2 separate regions of the Homo sapiens genome follow, and region 1 is linked to region 2. Evidence: fine-mapped expression QTL. A gene starts in region 2. The other region holds a variant in brackets. All regions are shown on one strand. Distances are from middle to middle.

Region 1 (5,000 bases), 830 kb after region 2:
TTTCAAAGTATGGGAGACGATGACTCCTAACAGTAACATTACAGATAAGTTTTATTTTCCCTTTTTTAGTTTTTATTTTCCCAATTTCCTACAATAAGGCAGTACCAATTTGATAATAAAAGAAATTAGAGAAGGGAAACAGAAAATAACTAACCATGTACCTCTTACTCCTCATCTTCCCACTGAAAACTGGAGGTGGTGGAGACAGTGGTGAAAAGATTATTCCTTCTATTTTAAACCATAAGAACAAGAGCCAAGAAGCAGAATCACTCAGATTCCTATATAACCCCTGCTGTTTCCTTCCCTGCCCAGGCAGCCAATGCTGCACTGGTTGCTCAATAAGTCAGAGGACACTTAGTAGAAAATCAGCAAAAACTTAAAATGAAAAAGACTCAGATTGAGTTTAGTGAATTATTCTGATGAAAATATGCAAAATCAAAAGGACCTCAAGAAGTCTGGATGTGTATTTAATGTGGATTTATGGACTTCATTACAAAAAAACATTGATTAATAATAACCTACTTCCAAACAAAACTCAATGTGTGCCAGTAGTTGGAAGTAAAGTTTGTAAACACTTTCAGAGTCATCTCATTGTCCTAGGATTCTAGCTCCCTAAGTCTTTTTTCATAATTTACTCTATGTTAAAAAAGGCATGAGTGGGGAATATCACAGAAAAACATTATTAAAATGTAAACACATATAGCAACTGAGTCAATTACTACCATACTGATTGCTGAATTTACCCTCACCTTTTGTAAGAAATTAAACTAATCCCTGTTTGACACACCTAAGGAACACAGATTTTTAGAGTAAGAGGAGGACCTTGAAGCACATCCAATTCAGATTGATGTGCAAAATGAGCATTACAGTATGCAACATAGATGACAGTGGTCAGGTCCCCAGACAGGCCTCCAAACCTCTGCCTGGACCACACTAATCGTACCCTAATCTGCAGTAATATGAATAGCTGCCACTGAGCAAACTCTGTGTGCTTGGAAAAGTGCTAAGTTTTGGGTTTGTCTGTTTAAACCACTACATCTGCTTTTTTTCCTTCATGCCGCTTTTCACAATGGTAATACCATTTCACTAATGTGCTTATTTGTTCACTGTCCACCTCTTCACTGGATTGTAAACTCTTTGAGGGCAAAAATCATGACTGTTTTGCTCATTGCTGTATCCCCAATCCCTTCTCCATAGACCAGAACTCATCAAGTATTTGTTAAATTAATGAATATAGCTTTTGATTCTTGGAGTTCTCTCCATTTTAACACTAAGGGAAACTGATAGTGAATAAGGCATTTCCTCAAAGCTGGTAAATGTCAGAGCCAAGGTTCAGACCCAGCTCCATTTGACCACAGAGGCCATGATTATTCTACTAAGCTTCCTGGCCACCCAATTAGTTTGAAAATAATCTATTAATTAAGCAATTTCAAAGTAATAGCATGAATTACATCCCATTCCTGCTTCCTCCCTCTGAGGCTAGTAAAATGTGAGTTTCAAACCTGAGTTTTAATTTTCTACAAAATGATACTAATGCTACCTCTGGGCCCTTATGTTCTTATAATGTTTTACATATGTATTTATTTACAAACACTCACTCTTTCTTTTTTTCCTCTCAACATCTATTTTAAGCTTGGGGTACATGTGCAGGATGCGCAGGCTTTTTACACAGGTAAACGTGTGCCATGGTGGTTTGCTGCAAAGATCATTTCAGCACCTTGGCATTAAGTCCAGCATCAATTAGCTATTCTTCCTGATACTCTCCCTCCCCTCCCACTTTCCAACAGGCCTCAGTGTGGGTTGTTCTCCCACATGTGTCCATGTGTTCTTATAATTCAGCTCCCACTTATAAGTGAGGACATGAAGTGTTTGGTTTTCTGTTCCTGCATTAGTTTGCTAAGGATTATGGCTTCCAGCTCCATCCATGTCCCTGCAAAGGACATAATCTCGCTCCTTTTTAAGGCTGCACAGTATTCCATGGTGTATATGTACCACATTTTTTTTGTCCAGTCTATCACTGATGGGCATTTAGGTAAACACTCATCATTTCTAACCATCCATATGACTACTTTTTCCCTCCTAATCAATAACATACAATATAGTTTAAACCAATAAAGTGCTGGAGCCACCCTGTGCTGGCTCCCAGAACTGATTGTTAAATTTTTGTGAGCTAGTTGTTA[C/T]GCACAAGCATTATTTTTAAAACTTATAATGAAATGAATTATATTAAAAACAAAAATTTCATTGGAGAAGGGATAACTTTGAACAAACAACACGGGAACAATTGGACACCAATGGGCAGAAAAATGAACCTTGATTTAAAACCTCACACCACATGAAAAATTAATTCATAATGGATCATGGATTTAAATGAAAATATAAAATTCTAAAACTTTTTATTTAAAAATAAGTGAAAATATTCAGGATGTAAATCTAAGTAAAGAGTTCTTAGACATGACACCAAAAATTGATATATGATTTATCAACATTTGAAACTTTTATGCTGCAAAAGACTCTTTTAAGAGAATGAAAAGACAAGTTACAGACTGGGAGAAAAAGCTTGCAAACCATATATCTGACAAATTTCTTACATCTCGAATATATAAAGAACTCTTAAAACTGTATAGTAAAGAAACAAACTCCAATTAGAAAATGGGTAAAAGACATGAGGAAACATTTCCCCAAAGAGGTGATACAGGTGGCAAATAAACACATAAAAAGATGTCCAACGTCGTTATCCATTAGAGAATGCAAATTAAAACCACAATGAGATATCAGCACATAGCAATTAGAACTGCTAAAATGGAAAACAGTGACAACACAAAATGCTGGTGAGAATACAGAGAAGCTTGATCTCTCATACATGATGGTGGGAAAGGAAAATAATACAGGCACTCTGGAAAATAGTTTGGAAGTTTCTTGCGCCAATCATAGGTCCCAGCAATCAGTTTTAGGCACTTATCCCAGAAAAATGAAAAGTTATATTCGCATAAAATCTATATACAAAATACACAAATGTCTATGGCAGCTCTATCCATAACAGCAAAGAACTGGAAACAACCCACATGTCTATCAATGGGTGAATGGTTAAACAAATTCTGGTTTATCTGCACAATGGAATACTACTCAGAAATAAAAGAAATGATACATGCAACTATGTAGACGAAACTAGGGTATTATTCTTAGTGAAAAAAGTCATCTCAAAAGTTAATGTACTGTATAATTTTATATTTATAACATTCTGGAAATAAAACTATGGAGATGGAGAACAGATTAGTAGTTGTGAGAGGATGGGGAGTAAGTGGTAACAATAGAAAGAGGAAGCACAGGGAGGGTGTTCCTTTATGGTGATGGGGCAGGCGAGGGGGTGCACAAGTGCAAACTCTGGTTTCTTTTTTAATTTTTATTTTTTTGTGACCATGGTGTTTTTATTTTCTACAATTATTTTTAATTTTTTAAACTTTTTAGTTTTAAAAAATTGACACATAATAATTGTACATGTTTATGGGGTACATAGTGATGTTGCAATACACATGATGGACAGTGATCAGATCAGGGTAATTGGCATACCCATCATCTCAAACATTGATCATTTCTTTGGGTTGAGACCATTCAATATCTTCATTCTAGCTATTTAAATCTATGTATTATTGTTAATTCTGTTCATATTTAACTACAGTGTTATAGGATACTCCGGTCTCTTTTTATAAGGTCACTAATCTCATCATGGGGACCCCACACTTGTGACCTCATCTAAACCTAATTACATAAATCTAATTACCTACCAAAGGAGCCTTCTCCAAATACCATCACATTGGGGGTCAGGGCTTCAACATATAGACTTGGGGACATACACGCACATATTCAGTGCATAATAGTGAAAATGTTATATAAGGCCTGCTACGGTACCTCTCTTTCCAGCTCTGCATTCAGTGATATCTCATTGGGAGCTGGAAACCAGCTGTAAGGAAGTATTATATCATAGAAATAAGCAAACACCACCAATCAGGACTTGATTTGCTATACTGTTGATTATTAGAAATGGATGGAGAAAATGTAAATATTACATATTAAACTTCAAAGTGTGCTGTGTTTGTAGACATTACATCATGAGCAGCACAAAACTGGAAAAATAGTGGTGGTCTATTATTTGAAAACTGTTATTTGATTCAGTAAGGAAGTTACTAATATTATGGAGGAGCAAATGAGGTTCCAACACAGGTCTTTTTGGTTTCACCTTCTTCTTACCTACTAAGGTAACCAAAAATACTAACCATATTATTTTGGGACTATATTCATTCATCAGTTGCACCCATAGGTTAGCTATAGATACAATAATTTGGCAAAAATCAATAAAAACATTCTTAAAGAAACGATTGGGTACATGGAATTTAGAACAAAGAATACTGAACATTTTATTGTTATTTGTAAATTATGTGCTCTTTATTGGGAAAATTAATAATAAGCTTAAACACACACCTTTTTAAATATACATTCTTGGCAGTTTAATTTTAATATTTCATTAAAATATTATCTATTATACTTTGTGTTCTGGGGTACATGTGCAGGTTTGTTACATAGGTATACACGTGCCACGGTGGTTTGCTGCACCCAACAACCTGTCATCTACATTAGGTATTTCTCCTAATGCCATCCCTCCCCTGACCCTCCCAATAACTACAGATCCAAAACAGGCCCCAGTGTGTGATGTTTCCCTCCCTGTGTCCATGTGTTCTAATTGCTCAACTCCCACTTATGAGTGAGAATGTGCGGTGTTTGGTTTTCTGTCCTTGACACACACACATTTTTAAACAGTCAGTGTTCAAATATTTACCAGCACAACACTGGCTTAAACCCAATCTTCATTTTGTTCTTCAGTGGAGACAATCACAGCTCTGCTCCTCTTTAAAGTGGTGATGGAGGTTAACTCTGTTGCATCTGGCTTTTACCTTTTGAAGCTGCCATCTTTCAGGGAGACTGATTTGATCCGTGGTTTGTTCAGA
Region 2 (5,431 bases):
AATATTTCATTCAGGCCAAGAAAACGCCTAAGCATTATCTCTAATGCACAAGAGAATGGGCTTCTCTAATAACCACAATGTTTATGTCTACCAAATTTATTATTTCTTTTATTTGGGTAGTGCTGTATATTACATAACAGAATATAAAAATTACCAGCAATCCCTCTATAAAAGTTTATTTGCGGCTGGGCACAGTGAGTGGCTCATGCCTGAGCACTTTGGGAGTGACTTTGGGAGGCCGAGATGGGTGGATTGCTTGAGTCCATGAACCCAGGAGTTCGAGACCAGCCTGGGAAACATGGTGAAACCCTGCCTACACCAAAAAAAAAAAAAATTATTTGCTACACTTTTTTAGGCCCTTCATTTCTGCATACATTTCTATGTTCTCTTTTTCTATACTCCAATAGACTATCCCCTTCTGTTAATACCCACCTGTTTTCAGACAAGTGTCAAAACCACTGATTAAGTAGTGGTTTCCTTTAAAATCAAACACAGCAATACCTCTTAGGGTGGGTTACTACTACTGATGCTTCCCTTAATCCTTACTAGGGATACAGCAGTATAAACTTAATCCCCCCTACCAGTGTTCTAAGTACAACTTTTAGATTCAGTATAGTTAGTTCTACTTGACATACATTTATTTCAGTCAACAACCTGTGATAGAGACATATGATTAAAAAGTACAGAGGAAACCATGAACAGTTAAGAAAGTGAAAAATGGTCCTCTGGAGAATAAGACAAGGGATATAGAAAAGCTGGGCAAAGAATGACTGCTTTTCCTTATAAGTCTGTTTGTAATACTTGATTTTTAAAAACCTGCCTACATGTATTACTTTTTTAATATTACTACAGTAAAAAGGAAGTGGGGGGAAGCTCATTTATTCTTCCCCCTCCCTAAATATTAACACATTTTATTTTGAGAAACATTTTTACTAATTAGATTCTGGATCATTAAGCAATCTATGCTACTGCATTTAAAAAACGTATTGAGTAATTCACCCAAAGTAATTTTCCCTATAATGGAGCATTCCAAATTTTTAAGCAGAATAGAAAGAAAATAAAGCAAACACTTTAATTGGCTGCAGAGATATTCTTAAAAGATTATGACAAACCTCGGCCAGGCGTGGTGGCTCACGCCTGTAATCCCAGCATTTTGGGAGGCCGAGGTGGGTGGATCAGTTGAGGTCAAGAGTTCAAGACCAGCCTGGCCAATATAGCGAAACCCCATCTCTACTACAAATACAAAAAAATTAGCCAGGAGTGATGTCGGGCGCCTGTAATCCCAGCTACTCGGAAGGCTGAGGTAGGAGAACTTCTAGAACCCTAGGGGCGGAGGTTGCAGTGAGCAGAGATCACGCCATTGCACTCCAGCCTGGGCGACAGAGCCAGACTCCGCCTCAAAAAAAAAAAAAAAAGAAAAAAGAAAAAATATTATGACAAACCTCTATTTTTGCATTCTAACTACCTCATTCTTTTTCATTTAATATTACTGAGGAAGTTGATTCCAAACCTAATCATTATTCATTGAAAAACTAAAGAAAAAAAAACAAAAAACTAGTCATTTCATTTGCTTTCAGAAGCATAATAAAAATAAACATGAAGGGGGTTTCATGATTATTCAAATTTATAGACGGAATCTATAAAACATAACCAAAAATATTGTCCTGTGTGATATTACTTGCTCCTCTACATTCCAACTACTGGGGAATTAAAAATAAGTGTCATAAACAGTTTCTTAGACATCTTAAAATTCTATCCTGCAACTTTGACTTTATAATCCAACAGGAAGGAAAGTCTGAAGTATCAAAAAGAAAATTGACGTGAAGCACAAATCTATATAACCTAACTCTGACACTTTGAACAGAGCAAACATGTTTAGCTGCAATAACAACAACAATAAAACAACAATAATAAAGGTTTCAAAGTCCTGTGCAAAAACAAGCTGAGTCTTCCCTCTGGAAAATAGATAATTTAACAACTTTACAGAAGGACCTGACACCACAATACTCCCGTGCTAAATTATTCTCTTAAAGCACCTGCAAAGCAGAGTAATCTTTCACATCCAAAAGCCACTCCCTGCTCAAAACCACCCGCATCCAAGCCGAACCTGAGACCTCACCAGCTGCCCTACCTCCAGCGCGCTCTCCCCCGACCCCACAGCAGCCCCTCGCGGAGCTCTCCTCTGCTGTCTTCCTTTTTCTTTGCCAAGAACACCAGAAAAGGGGGTCCCTCCAGCTCGGCCGTCCAGACCCTTCCTCTGGCTCAGAGCAGTGGCGAGCCCATCCCAATTCCGCGCTTCCTTTGCAGGCCTCCCTCTGGCGTGGGGACCCTCCTGCTTTCCTATGCAAGTACTAACCAGGCCCGACCCTGCTTAGCTTCTGAGATGAGACGAGGTCGGGGGTGTTCAGGGTGGCACGGCCGTAGACCCTCTGGCTTTCCGCCGCTCCACCTGGCACTCCGAGAGCTAACGCCAGCGATGGAGTCCGCGCCACCCCTGCCCCGAGGCCTCTGCCCCAACTGCGTGGCCGCTCAACTCTCCGCTTCCTCCCGCCCGCCTCTCCACCCCACCCCGCCCCTGGCCCTGTACCTGGAGCTCCAGGCCAGGTACAGCTGGCCTGCCCACGCCAGCTTCCCAGCTGATGCCTGGCGCTGAGCAGCAGTCTGACATGGAGAAGGCGGAGTCCTTCCGGGGTCAGGAGTGCGAAGGTGGAGAGAAAGTGGAGGGGGCCTTCCAGGCTTTCTGCGTGAGGGACTACGTGTGAAGCAGCTCCCGCCATTTTTGTTTAGGGTAGAGGCTCCTTCCTCGTCAAGTGGATGCAAAAACTATATTCGAAGAATTGCATCCTTTTACAAACCGGTAAAAAAAAAAAAAAAAAACTAGTATTGTAGTTCGTAACCTGTCGGGGGATCTAGAACGGTTGTCAATCTGGTAAAAATTATGGAGGGTTTCCCCTGGAAAAAAAAAAATGTGTATACACATGCTCATTACATTAAAGAAAAAAAAGTTACACAATTTCAAAACCCTGAAAACAAGATTAAGAACTTCTACCACAGGCCCTCAGCCCTCAGATGAATGAGTGTTAAGAGGCATTCCAATCCGGTATAGATGATGCATTTATTATTGATTTCATGTCCTCTTTACCTTTTTTTCTGTGTTTCCCACTGAATTAGGCAACCGAAGAATATTGAATGTGGCAATTTATTGGCAGAGTAGTCACCTCTCTCAGGTTCTAATACATAGTAAACTAATAGGGGGCCGGGTTAGGAAAAAATAACAACAACAAAACCCAAGGTACTGTTTCTACGTTCAGTCTTCAGTCAAAACATTCCATCAGAACTGCAGATTTAGGCGGGGCACGGTGGCTGAAGCCTGTAATCCCAGCACTTTGGCGGGCCAAGGCGGGCAGATCACTTGAGGTCAGGAGTTCAAGACCAGCCTGGCCAACATGGCGAAACCCCATCTCTACTAAAAGTACAAAAATTAGCCAGGCACCTGCCTGTAATCCCAGCTACTCGGGAGGCTGAGGCAGGAAAATCGCTTGAACCCGGGAGGCGGAGGTTGTGTGAGCCCAGATAGTGCTACTGCACCCCAACCTGGGTGACTAGAGTGAGACTCTGTCTCAAAACAAAAAACAAAACAAAACAAAACAAAACAAAAAAACTGCAGATTTAAGAATTCCAGTTGCTGAGCATATTTGTGGTGAAAAGCCAAAATAATTCTGTTTTCAAAATTCCCATTTAACCAAATGGAAAATAGAATAGTAGTACCAATTTATGATATTATTAGATTAATAATAACTAACGATCCACAGACTGGGTTTTATGTGAAAATATTTTGCACTTATAGGGTAAATGGAGCTCTTGAGACTTGAAGAACCTGAAATTTGTAAGGCTATTTTCATTTATTTTCCCAATTTCCTCCTCTTTCCCATTTCCCACAGCTTCCAAACATTCAACGTAATGAGAATAGCAGTAATGATGATGACTACCACTCAACACAACTTTCCTGAGACCATATTATCTCCTTAATTCCACAATAAACATTATGAGAAAAATAGTATTACACGGTGGGTACAGAGTTTATTCTTTAGCATGAGAATAAGATATGTCACATTTAGGCCAAGTGAGGTGGCTCACATCTGTAATCCCAACACTTTGTGGGGCCGATGAGGGAGGATCCCTTGAGGTAAGAAGTTCGAGATTAGCCTGGGCAATAGCAAGACCCTCATTTCTACAAAATAATAATAAAATATATAAAATAGAAATATCACATTTAATTTATGTTTATAAACCAAATGTAATTTGCTGTAAGCCTCCCTTCTTCTGGTTTGGCAGAGTACTGCACTCAATCTTAGCCATTATTGGATATATTAGTTAACATATTCGCTACAAGTAAAAGAAAACCAAACAAGTAGTGGTTTAAACCAGAAGGACAGGGGACTCAATGTCTTCTGATATTGGAGACAAGGAAAAAAAAATTGGAGCCTGGATTAATTCTGAAGGCCAGTACCTCCCCCAGATAACCAAGCCATCGTGTAATGCTCACTAAACCAGAGAATGGAGTTCATGGAGTACTACCAGTTGTTTCTTCTGTACAAGTACTGCAATACATGCTACAGCAACCATTAATGAATTTAGGGGATCCTATCTGCATAATATCAAAACAAAACTGTGAAGTCAGACTGCCTGGGTTTGAATCCTTTCTTGGCCACTTACTAGATGCATTGTTAAAGGAAAAGAAACACAAAGCTATTTTTCTGTAGTTTCAACACTTCTGACTCCAAATGTGTGGAGGTTTTTCCCCACCAAACAAGTCTCCAATTATTTCTTATTATAAACTCCACTCTTTAATTTAGTGTCTACCAACTGGGTGTTGTACAGTTAAATTTAATTCAATACTATGCACCAAACCCTTAAGGGCTCAGTCCTACAAGACTGCCCCCACTTCAGATACCAATTGCAAATCCCAGGTTGTCACTTGTACTTCTGACCAACCAGCTATAAATCAGGAATTCCCACAATCTTCTCCTCCCATCCCAAACCAGTCTATTGATTTATAACAGAAGATATTACAAAGGATACAGATGAACAGCCGGATGAAGAGGTACATAAAACAAGATCTGGAAGGATCCTAAGTGCAGGAACTTCTGTCCCCATGGAATCAGGGTGTATGACCTTTTTGGGATATGGATGTGTTCACCAACTCAGAAGCTCTTAGAACCCCGTACTTCAGGGATTTCTGTGGAGGCTTCATAATGTTGTTACCAGAAAGGGGTACCAATCCAGATCCCAAGAGAGGGTGCTTGGATTTCGCACAAGAAAGAATTCAGGGCAAGTCCACAGTCCAAAGCAAAAGCAAGTTTAAGACAGTGAAGTGGTGAATGTCCACTTACTCTATAGACAGAGTAGGGCGTTCCCAAAAGGAAGAAGA

Direction of the effects. Positions count from the first base shown, and alleles are read on the strand shown. Sizes are in standard deviations (SD) of each study's normalised expression.
As copies of T replace C in region 1, the expression in adrenal gland of the gene that starts at base 2,675 in region 2 goes up (large effect, 0.89 SD a copy in GTEx).

What was found.
Region 1: its variant is fine-mapped to the expression of MIGA1 in adrenal gland (GTEx, PIP 0.93).

Annotation. Positions count from the first base shown.
Region 1 is chr1:76,951,159-76,956,158 of GRCh38, reverse strand. The region is part of intron 2 of ST6GALNAC5 (ST6 N-acetylgalactosaminide alpha-2,6-sialyltransferase 5); the gene reads right to left. Among named protein-coding and RNA genes, the nearest start is that of ST6GALNAC5, 86 kb to the right of the region's middle. The variant C/T (reference allele first, on the strand shown) is at 2,181.
Region 2 is chr1:77,776,893-77,782,323 of GRCh38, reverse strand. MIGA1 (mitoguardin 1) reads right to left here and starts at 2,675. Exons shown (of 16, transcript NM_001416120.1): 1 at 2,588-2,675. It also overlaps the pseudogene RNA5SP21. RefSeq lists an enhancer at 2,699-2,788.